Regions from separate parts of the Homo sapiens genome. Here region 2 is linked to region 1. Evidence: fine-mapped expression QTL. A gene starts in region 1. The other region holds a variant in brackets. All regions are shown on one strand. Distances are from middle to middle. Region 1 holds the start of LINC00865 (long intergenic non-protein coding RNA 865). Region 2 overlaps LINC01374 (long intergenic non-protein coding RNA 1374).

The links. PIP is the estimated chance that this variant, and not a neighbour inherited with it, causes the effect.
Region 2: its variant is the best candidate, but not a certain one, in a credible set for the expression of LINC00865 in whole blood (TOPMed, PIP 0.53).

The regions. Positions count from the first base shown.
Region 1 is chr10:89,824,961-89,834,622 of GRCh38, reverse strand. LINC00865 (long intergenic non-protein coding RNA 865) reads right to left here and starts at 5,130. Exons shown (of 4, transcript NR_038382.1): 1 at 4,878-5,130; 2 at 4,319-4,653. It overlaps LOC105378424 (a long non-coding RNA gene), which reads left to right and starts at 3,802. Exons shown (of 3, transcript XR_946196.3): 1 at 3,802-4,591; 2 at 9,301-9,440.
Region 2 is chr10:89,883,611-89,893,272 of GRCh38, reverse strand. The region is part of intron 1 of LINC01374 (long intergenic non-protein coding RNA 1374); the gene reads right to left. Among named protein-coding and RNA genes, the nearest start is that of LINC01374, 35 kb to the right of the region's middle. The variant C/G (reference allele first, on the strand shown) is at 5,075.

The DNA.
Region 1 (9,662 bases):
TGTGTAGGTAGGACATAATCATGCTTTACAAAAAGGAGAGATGTTCTGCTGGATTTTGAAAAATTATTTTTAAGTTCCAAGCAAGACAGGTTCTATTTGTTCCTGGAAAGGTAATTGTTTTGACATAGATTTAATGTCATTGTGTGAAGAAAGAATATATTTTAACACTTAAGCTACTTATATGTGAGGAAAAGGAGTAAGGAAGATAAGTTTTTGATTAAATAAATATAGTAATAGCATAAAATTAAGGCTCAACTATGCATCAGACTCTAGGGCTGATACCATCTTATCCTTAACACAGACATACCACACACATAGTTACTTTGCCCTAAGGATTCTAGAGCACTAAAATAGTGTATAAAAATGTATATAAGGCCAGACACGGTGGCTCAAGCCTATAGTCCCAGCATGTTGGGAGGTCAAGGTATATGAGGTCAGGAGTTTGAGACAAGCCTGGCCAACATGGAGAAACACATCTCTACTAAAGATACAAAAATTAGCTGGGCAGGGTGGTGTCCATGTAATTCTAGCTACTCAGGAGACTGAGGGATGAGAATTGCCTGCACCCGGGAGGCAGAGGTTGCAGTGAGCAGAGATTGGGCCACTGCACTCCAGCCTGGGTGACAGTCAGACTCCATCTCAAAAAAATAAAAAATAAATGTATACAAGAATGTTATGAGACACTTCCCACTAATCATCAGAAAATGAACATGGACATATACCTTTACTCCCTCCCATAGCTCACTATAAGGATCCTAAAGATATTAATTTAAAAGGTCAAACCACAGAATGAATAGAAGTGGCAAAGAGACAACAGCAATACAATTTTGGAAGCAACAATGCAGATGTTTTATTAGCAGTTTTTAGCAAAGATGAGAAAGCGAAAACCTAAGCCAGCAGTGGCAGAAATATAAACAGAGTAGTTTCTGCTGCAAATCCCTCAAAAGCCCTGAATTGGAGGTGGCATGTGCCCAATGGTGGAACAGGTAAGATGAAAAATAGGGGAACTGGAAGTCTCAATACTTAGCAGTCCATATCCACTCCCCACTGGCAGTAAACTGGTTTATTCTCCAGAGATGTCAATTCAGCAAAGCTCTGGACTTTAGGACCAGAGTCGCCCTAAAGGCAGTAAGACTGTTCTGAAAACCAGGGAGCAAGTGACAGGGTACATTCCAAACAGACTATTTGACCCCCTTATCGATAAGGATCCCAGAATATTGATGGCTAATTTAGGGTGCAGCATTCAGGCTTGGTTTATTTTCTTCTTTCTATATGTTTTTCATTCTTTACAATGAACATATATGATGTACGCAGTTTTAAAAAATCTAGGAGGTGAATAATTTTCAACCCAGAATTCTATATCCAGCCAAACTATCTGTTGTGCTACTCCAAAATATAAAGGATTATTGAGCTGCAGGTAATTAAGAAGAAGCAGATGCAGAGAAGCTCTCTGCCATCCCTCTATTTGCCTAAAAGCAGGACATACAAAAACTAAAAGTATTCTGCCTCCCTTCTACCAGGGAGACCAAAAGATAACCACATAAGACAACTTTAAACTGTTACCACCTGGAGATGATACCAGGGAAATCTCCATTAACAAACATTACTAGCTAGCCTTTATTTGCTATGCATTTGCCTTCCCACAAGTTGCCACTCCTAAAGTTCTTTTCCTTTACCTCTCCAGAAATTTGCTGTTCATTATTGAAGATGCTATATCAGCCAGAATTCAAAGCCAATTCTGAGAACTACTCATTCCCTGGGTGTCTCTGGTGTATGTATGAAATACACATGTTAATACACTTCTGTTTTTCTCTTGTTGATCTGTCTTGTATTACAGAAGTTCATTTCAACTAAGAACTTACTGTTGAAGAAAATGATTACTCTTCCTCTATACAACCAATTATGAGAGTAGATTGAAACATTTATCTCACATGCAAGGCCTCATATTTACCTCCAGACATGCTATAGCAGAGCCTTCTGAAAGATGCACTCTATCAAAATGAAGGCGTACTACCAGAAAGAAAACCAGCCACATATTCACAGAAATAGGGGATCCAATATATGAGAGAAAAAAATTGAATTGTCAGGATAACAGTAAGAAAACATCTCAGGGCCTACAGAATAAGTAGTCCAGATTGGAACAGGAGAAAAGAGGGGTTCAGAAGCAAAGAATGCCTTCCGTAGGGCCGACTCATCCATTAGGCTGAGTAGGCATAGTGCTTGAGGGCCCATGACGCTGTTAGGAATTTACAAAAATGTCGTCATTTTAATTTCCTTTAAAATTAGGAGATAAAATTAATATAATAACAGTGACTATATGATAATAAATCCACCCTGATCATATTTACCTTTATACCAACGTGGCTGTAAAATAATTTTTATTTTTTATGGAGGAAGGAGCTCATGAAGGCAATGTACCTAGGACCGTGGCCTCCAGGAAAAAAAGGAAAATAAAAGAAACTGGATAGTTTCATTTGAATGTATCAAAAGGCACTTAAGACTTGTCAGAATTTGGCAGAATGAACTGATAATAACTACTTAGAAAACTAACTAAACAAAAATCAAGGCAATGCATAGTCAAGGAAAAACAAAAGCAAAGGTCTACAAAAAAGAAGTAAACCTAATACACTACAAGTTCATCTGTGAATAATATTTACATTGTCAAAATAAACACTAAACACTGATAAGATTTTTAAAAATATGATATTGCAAGATTAAGAAATGAAAGAAGAAGCTACATGCCCAGTTGTAAGACAGCCAACTCCTCATCTTTTGTAGAAGAAAGGCAATAGATAAGAACCAAACTGAAAAATAAATAGTATGAGAGGTATATTATAGGCTTGTGACAGTAAACAATAGAAAAAAAAACAGTTAAAAGAGATGAAAGTTGTTGCCTTTGGAGAGTGAGAATCAGAGATGGAGAAGAGTGGATAATGGTGTAATTTGCATTACATGACATACAACTTTTTGACTTTATGAACAAGAACCTAAGTTACCTTAATGAAATTTACAATTAAAGAACTTTAAGGATTGTTGAGAGTTAATATAATTAAATGAAGAATTTTCTACTTTTCTAAGTGTTTATGTATTAATTTTTTTAACATTTAAGAAGTGTGAAAAATGATTGAATTACATGGTAGCCTACTTAGATGCCATGAAAGATGTGCTCATGGGACATTAAAGAGATTGAGTAGACTGTGAGGCCAAAGTGAAATTCCAACCTGATGGAAGTGAACAGGGAATACTTCAAAAAGAGAAGAATGACTGAAAATGAGGAAAGTGAAAAATGCTAAAACTGGTTAAACAGAAGGGTCAGGAACAGTCAATATGTTATAGTCAGTATGGAAGAATACAATATACATTATGTATATGAGCTTTTCATGAGAAGACATGGGGGAAGAGTTAAACAATAGAATAACAACCATAATATTTTATTAATAACTATTATGAGCTGCTAAAATGGCATATATTTGGTAGGATATTAGTATATAAAAAAGGCTTGAGGTATTTAAAAATCTGTTCCCAGAAAATTATCCCCAAAAGTCAAAATATATATTTCATAGTTCTTTTAAATCCCTGACTTTCCAGCCACATATTCATACCACAATGCTGCACACTAAGCTGTAGATGGTTGAGTGATATGGTTTTGAAAAGATAATAAAAGAAAATTGAAAAGACACTCTTAGGTAAAACAAAAAGAAAATATTTCTCTCAGACAATTTAAAACTTAGGTAGTATAAGATAATTAGGGTTTTTAAAGAAGTCACTTTACAGAAGAAAGGAAATAAAAATTTTGCTGACCATGGCATATTTAAGAAAAAAAATCCAAGCAAAGAGGGGAAGAGTTATGATGAGCAGTGAGCAGTGAGGTATAAGCCCAACACTTTTCAGCCCACTGAAGTGTCCTGCCTACAGAACTCAAGGCAATTTCAGACTTCCTATCGACTGACATAGGTTTGGGGGTGCGGGAAATGACTCAAATGCTGCCCAAAATATATTTTTAAAAACTTTTTCCCTGATAAGCTTTTTAAGCCAGATAATGAAACCAAGTTGTTCGTGTTTCATATTTGAGAATCTAAGTACTGGATAAATAATAAGGGCTATCAATTATTGGGGGCTTTAATAATTCTTCAAACATTTAATGAGTGTCTTCTGGGTGCCAGGCGCTGGGACTATAGCTGTAAACTAAACAGGTGGCTACCTCCACAGAGTTTATAGTCTAAGGATTAAAAAATTAGACCTTGCACAATAGTGGGAGGAGACGGGGAAGTAAGGCCACCGTTGGAAGGTGGAGAATTGGAGAAAAGTCTCTATTCACCTCTCCTGAAGTAGTCAAGTGAAGGAAAAGTCACAGGTTACATATAGAGAACTGGGAACATCCAGTTGCAAGAGTGAGACCACAACAGGAGCTGGCGAAGAAGTGCATGGAAGGCTGTTGCCTCTGCATTGACTGTGGGTTTGGGGCTGCTGTTGGTCAGCAAGGCAGGCAGAAAAGGACACCAGCTGGAGTCAAGACAGAGGCAGGCGAGGACAAGCTAGAGCCCACAAGCAGTACATCTACACTTCTCTCCTTCCGCACCAGCTACACAGAGTAACGGTTACTCTTTCACTTCTGCTTCCCAAATCTGGCATAGATATATCTTTTGGCCAAACCTGATATGGAGACATAATGGAAATGAAGTTCTAGCTTAGGCCAGTTGATACAAAACCAGCACGGTCCATCCCTTGTCAAATTGGCGGCCGAGAGCACCTCCTTTTACCATATTTAATTTCCAGTAGCAAAATCTTGCTTCAACCTAAGGTGCAACTAACCCTGCTACAACTAGAAACACCCTAAACCTCTCTCCAATGAGGATATGAAGTCCCGTAGGACTTACCGCATAGGTCACTTTATCTTTGGGGAAAGTTCATCCTTTTCTAGCTGAGTCACACTGCCCTTTTAATATCCTGAGATACATGCTGAACTACAATACTATTGACACGTTTTATGTTCAATAGTAGAATGGATGGAGGAAGAGAAAGAAAATGAACCAGTATTATATTTGCAAAATGAAAATCAATCCTTCTGAAATATTTAAACGGTTTCTGCCTTTGTAGGAGACCGTTTGGTAACGTATCGAAATCCATAACGGCCGTGATTGGCGCGCAAGCGCGGGGCTGCCCAGGGGCCCTCCTTGCCTCCCGCCTTATGGGCCCGGAAGGTCCTTCTTTCCCCTAGCTTGGACTCCAGCTCCTGCCCGCGGAGCTTGGTCTAGCTGCGGGAAGCATTGAAGCACAAGGAGAGTACTTTTGCACAATGACCTCCAAATTTTACTTTGAGGACTTTATCATAGTGAAACTACCATGGCTGTAGCTTATATCGGTTTTTTTTTAAATGAAAATAACCTAATTATGCAACAGCGGGAGGGTTGCTTGAGTAAATTATTGTTAACTCCAAATGACAGAATAATGTATGAAACAATTAAAAATAATTTGTTAAAACAATGAATGACTTAGAAAGATTTTTATTATTAAGTGAGAATAAAAGCAGAAACCTAAAAGATATATTCAGTATGAGCTCATTTCTGTAAAATGATGTATTTTACAGAGGAGAATAAAGTTTAAAGCATGCAAACCAACGTGGTAACTGTATTAAACCTACTTAATAACAAGAAGCTATTCATAGTAAATAAGTTGAATTTATAGAAAGAAATTTACTATGAGGACAAAAAAGGATAAACAGGAAAATATTTGCAAAACAGATAATCTAACGTATAACCAGTTCCTTCAATTAAATAAGAAAATAAGAATCCAATAGCAAAAATGAGGACATGTTTAGAAAAAGAAATAAAACATTTTAAACATGTGAAGTGTTTTATTTCATTTCTGCTAAGAAAAAGCAAATTAAAACAAAAATCTAATATTATTTTAACCATCAGAAAGCTTGACACATTGAGTTGACAAGAGTAAAGGAAAACAGGCATCCCGATATATTGCCAGTGGGAGTAGAAATTGCTGACACCTCTATGAAAAAAATACGCAAGCCAAAATTTTCAATAATGTGCCCCTAAACCCAACAATTTTACTTTAAAGTGTAGACATTCATTGCAGCATTTTTTATAATCTGAAAAAAACAGAAACAAATGTACAGATAAGAACTGGTTAAATAAATTATGGCAAAGCCATACAATGAAATACTCTGTGATGATTAAAAATAGTAAGGCACTTCTTCATGCAATTATATGGAAAGATCCCCAATATATATCAAGTAAAGGATTTTAGGTATATAATGGTATAATTAAACCCTACCATTTTTGTAAAAATAAAATATGTGTGTATACACACATATCAGGTATGCACACCCACATTCCTATATGGGCATAAAACATCTCTAGAATGGAACAACAACAAAAAATTGATAAATTGCTCCCTCTATAATTTTGAGGAAGCTCCCAACAGCTAATTAATTTTTGTTCTTTGCCCTAAACCTGCCCCTTTTTTCATTTTTTTCATTTCCAAAAAGGTACTACCATTGATTGTCTCAGAAAAGTAGAAATGAGATTTGTTCCTTCTCTTGTCCTCACCCAACCCCCATTAAATCAGTTATCAAATCCTGCTAACTTTATTTCCAAAACAAGTCTCAACTTTATCTACTTGTATTACAGATGTTGGCTATTTATCAACGTTTTCTGTTCCTTTCAACCTTAGTCATAGACGTCCTGATTTTCAACTAGACCTGTAGTAACCTAGAGTAAACATTTTATTGTCTATCTTCCATTGTAATCACATGGGGCCATGCTACTGAGTGCTTTCCAATGAGCTGTAACTGCAAGCATCACGTATAATTTCTAGAAATTCTCTTACAGGAAAGGGATGTATCTTTTTTCCTCCCTTCATCATTCACGTTGTCTGGGATGAAAACAACATGACTGGAATTAAAGCAGCCACCGTCAATGAGGAGGTTGAAGTCACGTATTGACAAAATGGAAGGAATCTGGTCCCTAAGAATGGTGGAGCCACCAATTGAATTCTAGGCTATGTACAGATTTCAGTTATGCGAGAGAGGAATAAATATCTGTCCAAGCCACTGTAATTTGGAGTTTCAGTTACAGCTACTCCAAATCCCAAATGATAAAATGTCTCTGTATTTCAATGGCCAACCACCTGACCAAAGCCCAGTCCATTTCACCTGAACTGCTGCAACAGCTTCCTAACTGTTCTATCCACATCCCACCTTGACCTCTTCCTCTGCTGAATTCTCCACACCTCAATAAGAACATGCTTGTAATATATATATGTATATATACGTATATATACATATATATGTATATATACATATATATGTGTGTATATATATATATATATATATATATGATCGAATCCTCCCTTTTTTTTACAATCCTTTAAGAAATTCCCATTAGTTTTAGAGTAAGTTTAAATTCTCAACATAGCCTATTCAATCTTACATTGTCTGGCTCCTAAAACTTCAGCTCATCCCTCGCTGCTTCCCCCCCTCACTCACTGGGCTCCAATCACATGGAAGTTTCAGATATCCTGTGCCCTCTACTGTTAGATTCACCTTAAATCTTCTGTCTCCAGTCCCTACTGCCTACTAAGTCTACTAATCAAATCTTTCGGGTCTCTGGTAAAATGCAACTTCCTCAGGAATTATAGTCAGGAATCATGACTATACTTTCTCATGACATCTTGGATTATGCCTTATAGTCCTTATTTCCTGCATGGTTAGCATGGTTATTTGTGCAATTATTCCTTTAATGTAGAGGTTTCAAATGGTATGTAGGACTAATCTGCTTACAGATGCATTCCATGGTCCACACAGTATTTCTTTTGAAAAGCTTTAATCAGTGCATTCTCTTTTTGGTTTGTCACACTTCCCATCAATTCACACCATTTCACAAATTTAGGTCCCTTTCCTGCCTCCTGCAGGCCTTTGCACATTTGGCCTGCCTCTCCTACTAAACTAGAGTCTCCATGAGGGTAAGGATGGTGCCTGTCTTCCTCATCACTCTATGCCCACTATCTGACATCCTTAAGACCTATCAAGGTGCTCTGGAAATCCTTGCCTAAGGAATAAAGCCAATGAATGAGCTGTTTTCATTGCCATTATTAGCAGCCTTTTTCTTCCTTTGGTTTTATTTTTAATACCAGATACCATAAGTAGATAAGTGTGGTGGAAGTATCCATTTGGTAACTATTTCACATGAAATTTTGAACAAATTTAGCACAAGACTCTGAACCTTAAGGCAAACTTTCACTTTTTATCCACTGGACTAAATAGAAAGTAAATTCATATAGTTACACTTTTGAATTTTGAGAAGTTTACAAAAATATTTCATCCAGGCCATTCTATTTCTATTCCCTAGGAGTTAGGCACCTCACTGACAGTGCCCCCAATTCTCCAAAGGCTTTTTAGCTCAAGGTTTAAAAAATGAAATGTAACTTTTAAAAAAGCAATCTGTCCTCCCTGATGGCAACTCCAAAAAATAAACCCAGATCACACTGCTTAAACGTTTTATGACAGCAAACATTGTGCTTAATACAAAACAGGAATTTTCAATTTGTCAATAATAAGAAAATGAAGATGCAAAACAAAATGTCTCTGTATTTTCCAGATATTTTATTTTTATGTTTCATATTTTCTTATTCTTCAAAGGGACAGAAGTTTGAGGTTTTGTATTTATTTTCTAAAGCTGTGGCCTTCTATATTTTGACAGAAAGTATTAGGGCTGAGTTACTTCTAAAAATTCCAGGTTCTCCACTCTTATAACACATTTACATTGACTTGAAAATTTTTCATTGCACCTACACACACATTTTTTGTAGGTTTTCCTCACTTGGTGAAGACTGCAATGTTGTTAATACCTCTGAAGCATTTTAGAGTTACCCAAACTCTAGATGAAAATTCTACAATAAGGAAATTCAGCAGGATGCTAAATAAGCAATATTGCTCTTTCTCTATAATTGTTGTCAAAATGTTAAAAGCTAAGCCTTCCAGCCAAAACAAAAAGAAATGATAATTTTCTGGATTGGATCAATGGTCCATTCAGGCCAATAGCATCTTCAACAATTCATTTGGGAGGTGATTTGCCCCTAACTATAATGTTAACAAGAACAGTGTTTCTCCAAGCATTTCAGAGTCTCTTAATCATGGTTCTTTTATTTGTGAATATATAAAAACATTTTTAAACTCATAATATTTCCCTTGACTTACTGTCCACCAGAGGAAGTGGTATTTTCTCTTACTTGGCTTAAGCATTCTTAAGCTGCAAAGGTAACTAACTACTCTCTCTTGTGTTCCAGGATTCAGTGAAACGGTCTCTATTGATAGCCAGATCAGACTGTGAATGAATGACCTTTTAAAACAGCCAGGTGTTTATCTCCCAGTGCATCCTTCCCTCTCTTCAGGATAAATCTTGGACAGTTAAGCTTATCCTCATGAGGTATCCTTCCCATGATATTTTTCCTGAAAAATTCCACTTGGCCTTTGAGAAGTGACTCACAACCATCTAAGGAAAAAGATACTCCAAAACAGGGCTCCAACTGGGTGGGCCTAGGCCATCTCAATGTCTCCAGTCCAGATCAACAAGGAACAGAAATACTGAGGGGTGGAAGAAATGACGAAGAAGCAGGGAGGAGGTTGGTAAGCAGTAGGCAGGTGAGGG
Region 2 (9,662 bases), 59 kb before region 1:
CAATATCATGAAAATGACCATACTGCCAAAGCAATCTACATATTCAATGCAATCTCTATCAAAATATCAATATCATTTTTCACTGAATTAGAGAAAATAATCCTAAAATTCACACAGAACCAAAAAAAGAGCCTGAATAGGCAAAGTAATCCTAAGCAAAAAGAAGAAATACCAAGGCATCACATTACCTGACTTCAAATTATGCTACAAGGCTGTAGTAACCCAAACAGCATGGTACTGGTATAAATGTAGACACATAGATCAATGGAACAAAAAAAAAGAGCCCAGAAATGAATCCAAATACTTACAACCAACTAATCTTTGACAAAGTATACAAAAGGCACCCTATTCAATAAATTGTACTGGTAAAACTGAATGGCCACATGTAAGAAAATAAAACTGGATCCCTATCTCTCACCACATACAAAAATCAGCTCAAAATAGATTAAAGACTTCAATATAAGACCAGAAAACATAAAAATTCTAGAAGAAAAACTAGGGAAAACTCTTCTGGACATTGGCCTAAGCAAAGAATTTATGCCTAAAACCCCAAAAGCAAATGCAACAACAACAACAAAAAAATGGGATTTAATTCAACTAAAAAGTTTCTGCACAGCAAAAATAATAATAATAATGATAATAATAATAATAGAGTAAACAGACAACCCCAGAATGGATTTGCATCCAACAAAGGACTAATATCCAGAATCTACAAAGAACTCAAACAAATCAGCAAGAAAAAATAAATAATCCTAGCAAACAGTGGGCAAATGACATGAATAGACATTTCACAAAAGATGATATACAAATGGCAAAGAAATGTAAGAAAAATGCTCCACATCACTAATCATCAGGGAAATGGAAATTAAAATTATGAGATGCCACCTTTGGATAAACACTTCCCTAATCCAAAGAGCCAGAGTCACTTCTCCTTTGAATCACGAGAAACTTCAGGTTACCTGATTCCACAAAGGATCTGGGTCAGCTTACAGAGACTCCAATCAACAAAACTATAAAAGGTTTATTTTTCAAGTAAAATCCTAGGGGTATGTGCATTAGAACAGGTGGGTAAGCAGAAGGGAGAAGGACTATTGAGAAGGACAAAAGCACAGGTAAGCTGGCTCTAGGATGCTACTGTATTCCGGCCAGGTTTGAACAGGAAATTTAGCTCTGTGTTTCCAGACAGCAAAATCAAAAGGAAATGTGGTTAAGTATATAATACCTATTGCCCATAATATATCCATTGTTCATTTTTTTCTCAAGAGAAACAAAAATTTTTTATCACTTAGCCTTACATGCATTATCAAACTGCAAGTGCATTTGGACAAAGGTGTGTCTTACACATCTTTGAATTTCCAACAGCACCTAATGCAGTGCCTCGCCTCTAGCAGGTGATAATTAAATAACTATCCAATTAAATTTAACTCCTTTTATTTATTCATTCAACAGATATATATTGTACATTTACTAAGTGCCTGGCACTGTGCTAGGATTGCAACAACAGAGGCTCTTCTTCTCACACAGCTTATATTCCTCAAATACTCCTTGGCATCAATTATCCTAGGGAGAATACAACATTGAACACTTCTTATGACATGAAATTCTATAAGCTTGCCAAAATCTGTCTTTGTCTATTTGTTTGATCATGTACATTTAGAGAACAGAGGTTACAAATGTACCTGGAAGCTGAAGTCATGTTTTCTTTGACCCAGTGGGTGTTTTTAATTGTTTGCCAGTTGTGACGGTTTATTTTATGTGTCAACTTGGCTGGGCTATGTTGTGCCCAGATATCTGGTCAAACATTATTCTGGGTGTTTCTATGAGGGTATTTTTGAGCAAGAGAAACCTTGAGCAGAGTTTGAGTAAAGGAAGTTTCCCCCATGTGAGTAAGCTCCTTCAGAAAGACCAGTATTCCCCAGGAAGAGAGAATTCCCCAACAGACTGCTTTCAGACTTCATCTGCAACATTGGCTCTTCTGGGTTCTGGAGAAGACTGCCTTTAGACTGAAAGTAGAATGTCAGCTTTCCTGGATCTCCAGTCTGCCAGCTCACCCTGCAGATTATAGACTTGTCAGCCTCGATAGTCATGTGAGCAAATACCTTAGAAATTAATTAATTAATTAATATCCTGTTTATTCTGTTTCTCTGGAGAATTCTGACTAATCTACCAGCATTTAAAAATGGGAAGATTTCAGGCAAGAATTTATATTTCTAGCCTACATCAGTCAGAGTCCAACCTCAGAGAAAAGAAATAACTCTGAATCTTTGACACACGAAGTACATAATGGAGAAAATTGGTCATATAGGTGAAGCGAGAACTGATAAACAGGGAATTGTGAGGGAGCATAGAGATTAGCAACAAAAGGAAGCCACTGTCACATCGAAACGGGAGAGAGAGGAGGAGGCAGATATAGGGTGTGAAGGAAGGGATGAGGAGAGAACTAAGGTCACTCAGTGGAAGCCGGAGTTGTAATAGGCCTGTCTCTCAAAAGCTAGCGTCATTTTGGAGATATTTCTGTTGCTGGAGGCATTGTTCAAGGCTGAGAGGCAGGGTTAGAAACAACCAAGTTTCTCCCTTTTTCCTCACCCCCATCTCCCACCAGTGCCTCCCATTGGTAGGACCCAGACAGAAGCCAGCTGAAATGGAATCTGGAAACCGCAGCCTATAGGAGTCAGTCTGCACAATTTAAAGCTAAGCGGTGGGAGTGGAAGAATAGACTTAAGGGCAAAAAGATTGACTTCTGAGCAGTCTCCCCTGAAAAATAAGATATTACAACATGAGCCTTGCAATCTTGCTCACACCTGTGGGCTTGAGCTGAGTAGTAGCTGTGTCCCTTAGCCTGGGCACACTCTCCTCAGTTTGCCTTAAGTTGAACCTGCCCATTTTCTTCCATTAAGTTGCCTGCCTAGACCATACAGGCCTCTGTCACAGAGACTGGAAAACACAGAATACTGAGGCTGAAAAAGTGCTATGGATTGAATGTCTGTGTGTCCTCTCAAATTCACATGTTGAAACCCTAATTCCCAATGTGATGGTATTTGGAGGTGGGGCCTTTGAAAGGTAATCAGGTCATAAAAGTAGAGCCCTCATGAATGGGATTAGTCCTCTTATAAAAAGAGACAAAAGAGATGAACTCTCCCTCCTTTTCTCATGTGAGGATAAGCAAGAAGATGACTATCTTCAAACCAGGAAAAGAGCCCTGTCTTAGTCCATTTAGTGTTGATATAAGAGAATACTTGAGACTGGGTAGTTTGCAGGGAAAAGAGGTTTATTTATCTCATAATCCTGCAGGCTGTACAAGAAACATGGCATAGGCACCTGCTCAGCTTCTGGTGAGGGCCACATATTACGTCAAAAAATGGCAGAGAAAGTCAAAGGAAAAGTAGACACATGCAAAGCAGAACTAAAATCAAGAAGTATTCTGGCCTTACAACAACTCACTCTCTCAGGAACTAATCTGTTTCTGCAAGAACTAATTCCATCTTACTAGAGCGAGAACTCACTACCAGGAGAACAACAATAAGCCATTCATGACAGATCCTCCCCCATGGCCCAAACACTTCCCAACAGGCCCCACCTCCCCACACTGCCACATTGAGGATCAAATTTCAACATGAGATTTGGTGGGAACAAACAAGCCATAACCAAGCCATAGCATTCTGCCCCTGGCCCCCCAAAATTCATGTCCTTCTCACATTCAAAACACAATTAGACAATTTTCTCTTCTAATAGTTCCAAAAGTGTTCACTAGTCCCAGTATCAAGTCAAAAGTCCAAAGTCCAACATCTCATTTGAGACTCAAGGCAAGTTCCTTCTAGCTATAAACCTATAGGGAAATTTACATTTTTCCCCTTAAGATTCAATAATTTGAGTCTATAAAACAATCTGATACTAGACAGATTAGTAGGAAAAAGGCATTCAAATTTTATGACATACATATATGTGCACAAGAGTCATATAAAATATTAAAACTCAAAGAAATGTAAGAGGGTTGACACTTTTATACCATCTTGAGGTTACAGAAGAAATGAGGGCTCTAGAGCATGGCAAAATAGGTTATGGTAGCAAAACAGGTTATGGAAGGAAGAGAAGAGGAAACACCTTACTAGCAAAGGGGTCTTACTATGCAGATGAAACCTCACAGGTAGCAGCCTTCAGAAAAAAATAAATCGTAGCCAGCAGTAAATATTTCTGTCAGAGCTTTAAATTGTCAGACTCTCAATTCATCTTTCCCAGGTCCCAACAAGGGGGGCTTCAAAGAAAGCCTGTTTCTATCTGTTGTTTACTTCACTTCATTTCCTCCACAGATGCAAACCTCTCCCTCAAAAGTCAGTTTTTCATCTGTTCTGGTGTCAGCATCTGCTCAGTTTCTGGTGAGGGTCATATGCTAGGTCTAAATATAACATAGAAGGTTAAAGGAGAAGTGAACATACACAAAGAGGAAACAAACCCAAGCATATGGGTTCATCTTGCCCACTGCCCAAAAAAGCTATTGCACTAACAGCAGGTTTTTGTGGCAAAGGACTTATGATTAACACAGGGCTAACCAAGATGAAGCTTATTACTCAAATCAGCCTCCCCAAGAACTCAGTCTAAGGTTCTTATGGATAACTTGTGGGGGGTGGGGGGGTAGGGGGGGGTGGGGGGGGGCTAGGATAAGAAATCAGGTGCTACTGATTGGTTAGGGATGAAATTATAGAGGTATGGAAAATGGTTCTTGTGCACTGAGTCAGCCTCTGGAAGGGGGTCACAGGACCAATTGAGTCATCAGGCATGGGTCTAGGTGAAATCAATTTGTCACCAGAATACAAAAATCTAAACAATCTCAAAAGACCAATCTTACATTCTGCGATAGTGATGTTACCTGTAGGAGCAATTGGTGAAATTACAAGTCTGTGGCCTCTGCTTCATGACTCCTGAGCAGTAAGGGATTATAGGAAAACAAGCTAGGAAACAACAGCTGTTTATCATTTAACTATACTTACATTTTAGCAGAATTCAGGCCCCTCTCAGAATACTAATCTTGTGACCTTTCATTGTCTTACAAAGACTGTTTCAGTCTCCAAACAAGGAG[C/G]GGATCAGTTTTAGGAAGCGACTATTATTATCCTTGCTTCACAATTAAACTGTAAACTAAATTCTTCTCATGGTTAGCTTCGTCCATGCCCAGGAATGAGCGGAGACAGCCAGCCTGTGATGCTAGAGGCAAGACGGAGGCGGCCATGCCAGACTTCTCTCACGTCATAATCTTTGCAAAGGCAGTTTCACAATGGTTGTCTTGGTTTTATAACAACTCACTGTATCAGGAACTAATTCAGTCTCATGAGTACTAATCCTGTCCCACTAGAGCAAGAATTTACTGCTGAAAGAACTGCACCAAGCCATTGATGATGACCTAAGCATCTCCCACTAGGTTTTCCCTCCCAACACCACCACAAGTTTTAACATAAGATTTGCCAGGGATAAACAAGCCGTATCCAAAACTAGCACGTCCCCACCAGGAGCCAAATCAACAACACCTTGATCTTGAGCTTCCCAGCCTCCAGAACTGTGCAAAATAAATGTTTGTTGTTTAAGTCACCCAGTCTATGGTATTTATTATAGCAGCCCCCAAACGGACTCAGAGAGGGAAACTGAAAGATCATCTAGTCCAATCTAGGTACTTATCATATTACAGAGGAGAGAGTGAAACCCAGAGGGAGACAGATTTACCTAATTTGATAGGTGGCAGAGCCAAGCTGCTCTTTCAGTTTGGTGTTCTTTCCTGTACACATCTATCTGTGGAAAGGGGAATTTAAAATTCTCCCTCTAATCGCAGAGACAGTTCCCTGGGGAATGGCTGTATTTTAAAATGCAAAACAACAACCTAGACTTTTGAATAACAAAACGATTGGTTTAAATCAGGTGGAAAACCTATTTACAAAATGGGTTTAATATAAAAAAAATCTCCAAAACCTGATCTGAAGGAATTTTGCCTTCGTGTTTTTTTTCTTTTGCTATGTCTGAACATATTCTTTTTCCTTTAAAGTGACTTTAGAAGGAATACCTAATGAAGGCTACTACAATGATGCTTTTTTATGAATTAAAATAGTTGTTTCATTGTTTTGGATGACTACACTGGTTCTCTCGGTATCTTATTCTGTTAGGTGCTCTAGCTTTTATCTAACTCAAAAGAAAATAGGGAGGGGGAATCTTTTCTGGATTACCATATGCATTTGTGTCTTTTTCTGTCTTTCCCATATTTCATCACACAATTGGAGGAAAAATAATTTGTACAGCTCAGTAATTTGAATTTTAGAGCAAGTGTTCTGAAACTTCAGACTTACCAAAGAGGTATGAACTGGGTTTAATTGAATCTTAGTTGCTTAAGTAGGTTGAGGCGTTAATGTTTATCTGATTCTTCATCATCTGCTCCTGTTTGGACTCGTAAGCCTCTTCTCTAAATTGGTTTACTCCTTTCTCAGCACAGAGATTTGCCAGGAGAAATTTCTGGAAATTCAGCAGCAGGTGTCAGTGCTGCAAAGGTCCATCCAGTCAGGTAATCTCACAGCTTCCTCTCTTCTCATATCAACTGCAAACTATTTATTATGTAGGAAATATATGCTAATAAATATGGTAATCCATATCAGTTTTAATTATTTTAGTTTGCTTCACTATTTCAATAATAAAACATTAACAACCATTTGAGTTCACTAATTCTAGATTTCCAAAAAGTGATTCCTAGAATTTTAAAAGAAAAATATTTGGTTAACAACAATATTTCATGTTAGAAGAAAAGAAGGAAGAGATTCTGTCTGGAGGAAGAAGATTAGTTTTGGATTTTTTGTTTGTTTGTCTTCTCAATATATCTCTTTTTCTTAGGGTGAAAAGCTTATGTCATTTATAAAAATGAGGTTACAAATTAGCTCACTGGTGCTCATCAGTAGTTTATTAGTCTCAATCTTATTAATAATCATACTGTTCTTTCTGGGAAGCTAATAGCAAACTGAAGATCACTTTGAAAGATAATTGGCTTTGGCTTAGTAACAAAGCCATGTTTATAGATGTCTCTGGAAAAAAAGAAACCCACACACCATCAAATAATATTAGAGTGTCATGGTCCTTATGGCCAGATTAAGACTACTTCCAGGTGTCTCCCTTCCTCAGTAAGCTTCCTGTTTCCCACCAAACCAAAACCAGAACATATTGCTGACCAAAACACAAACGGTTTATATCCAGCCTGTTCTTCCTGAACAGTATCCAACTTTATTTGGAAGCAGAAATTGCCTATTCTCTGGAGATGAGTTGTGATTAGCCAAATCAATTCTGTTCCTCACTTTCCCAGTCTCCTTGCAACTAAATATGGCCCGGTGATATAATCCTTGTCTAGAAAATATATGTGAAGGTGGCCTGATAAAGGATCTTACATGTCCTGCTCCTTCCCCATTTTTCCTGATGGCTGGACCTATAGCAGCCATCTCGTAGCCGTGAGGCAACCAACAGGAGAATGAAGGTGTACACGCGAAGAATAACAGTTCAGAATGATAGAAAGTAACTGGGTCCCTGATGGGAGAGTTGAGAAGATGAGCCTACAACAGTAACCACCTACCCCTGGAATGCCAATAATGTAAAAACAAAAATCTTAATAAATTATTGGTGTAAGCTACTGCTGGCGTTTCTAACTGCTATAACCTCCTTTTCCCAGGAAAATCCTAGAACCTTTGTCTGTGACACTATTCTTCCATTTACTCTGATAAAAATAAAAGAACAAAAACATCTTGTTGTCCATATTCTTACACCATTAAAACAACATGCACAGGGTTAGGATTTTCATCAGTTTGACAATTTACTAAAGTGTTTAATTTACTTCTGTGCCAGAAAAATCTTGTAGCTGCATCCAAACTGATTATTTATAACGTGAGATGTTATTTGAATGACAGTGTATTTTATTTTCCAATTACATTTTGTTTAAGAGGTAAAATATCCATTTATAAAACTACTGCTGCTATAAAATGGTTTTACTATTAAAATCTAGATCCCTTAATTTATTCATATAGAATCCATTATAGTATACAATTTGGATGGACTGGGGTCATAATAAGAAGTCTCTTTTAATATCAGAAACAAACAATAACAGAAGCAGATTTAATCTGTCAGCCTTAATCTTAAACTCCAGATAAATTCTGCTTTACCTATCTCAAACAAGTGAAACAAGAGTGATTAGAAGTTAATAAAATCAGTATGTAGTATAAAATAGATGCTAAATAAAGTTAATGAGTCAAGATAATATAATTCTGACTACACAGGATACTAGTTTATAGTATCTGAAGTTTCAGCAAACAAGTTGAATCCCAGCTGAGTTCCAACCTAACTATATGTACTTAATGTTCTTTAACATATAAGTTCAGGTATCCAAAATAGATAAATGAGAGCTAAAATAATAAACACTGTATAATTATTTCATACTCTTCCAAGGTTTTCATAAAATCTTTAATTGAATCCATCACAAAATTATTAATATATAAACTGGTCAATTCAAGTATCTAGTTTCACTATATCTTTTCATTACAGTAACCAGTTGCTAGATTGAAGTGTTTCCCACATAAGATGTTTCTTATGTAGAATGACTTGATAGGAGCTATAAAGAAAGGTTATGTAACATAATGGGCAGTGCACATACTTCAGAGACAAAATAGAGTTCATTCTTTGCAATTGATCACTGTGCATCCTTGGGCTAGTCACTTAATTTTACTGAGCTTCAGTTTCCTCCAAGGTTGAATCGAGATCATACCTACCTTTAAAGATTGTTGTGAAAATCATTTTATAAATAAGTATCCTGTCAAACTACAAGCCGGTGAAACCCTAATTTTATGATGCTAAAAATTAGTTGGTTCTGAATCACTTAATGCCTATATGAAATACCTGCAGTATAGATTATATGCTTGTAGCAATTCAAGTCCTAATAGAAAAAACCAAAGAGGCATCTTGATACCTTAGAAACATCTGGATAGACACAGATGAGAATTGTAAAGCACCAGAATGTCCTGAGACCTCTGAGGTGACAGAATCAAATCCCTTCCCCTTGTAAGAGAAGAAAAGCTTCCTCCTCCTTGGAGGGAGATCTTATAAAAATGTCATCAGATATTTGTCCTTCCCAATATTCACCCTCTTTTCCCCTCAACATAAACCCCTAATGCTACTACATACTGGCAGGATTTAGAGGAAAATGTGGGAGATAGAGCTGAGGGATGTTGGACAAGGAAGATAGAATATAAGTTTGGATAGAAGCAAGTGTATTAACATAGGAGTACTTTTCTATGATTCAAGGCTTAATATCATACAAAGCCTTTGTAACTGGTCATAATACGCTGCTGGGATAGGCTTGACATGGCAATGTCCTAGAATAAAATATATGGGGATGCTGAAACTGTGTTACTGTATTTTGAGGAAATGGTCAAAAGGCTTATGGAAGTGGAAGTGTTACAATATATTTATGAGAGCCTAAGAACCCCCCCACATGATTCTGTTCTCCAGAAGGATCCAGAGGACATTAAAGAATGCATTATTTATTTTCAGATATGGGAACAGCAGCATAAAACTATAATCCCTACAAGTGAATTGCGCCCTACAACTGATCCAGCTTATTGCTAGAAGCAGTTTCCAGGTTACAGCACAGGGAAGAGTAC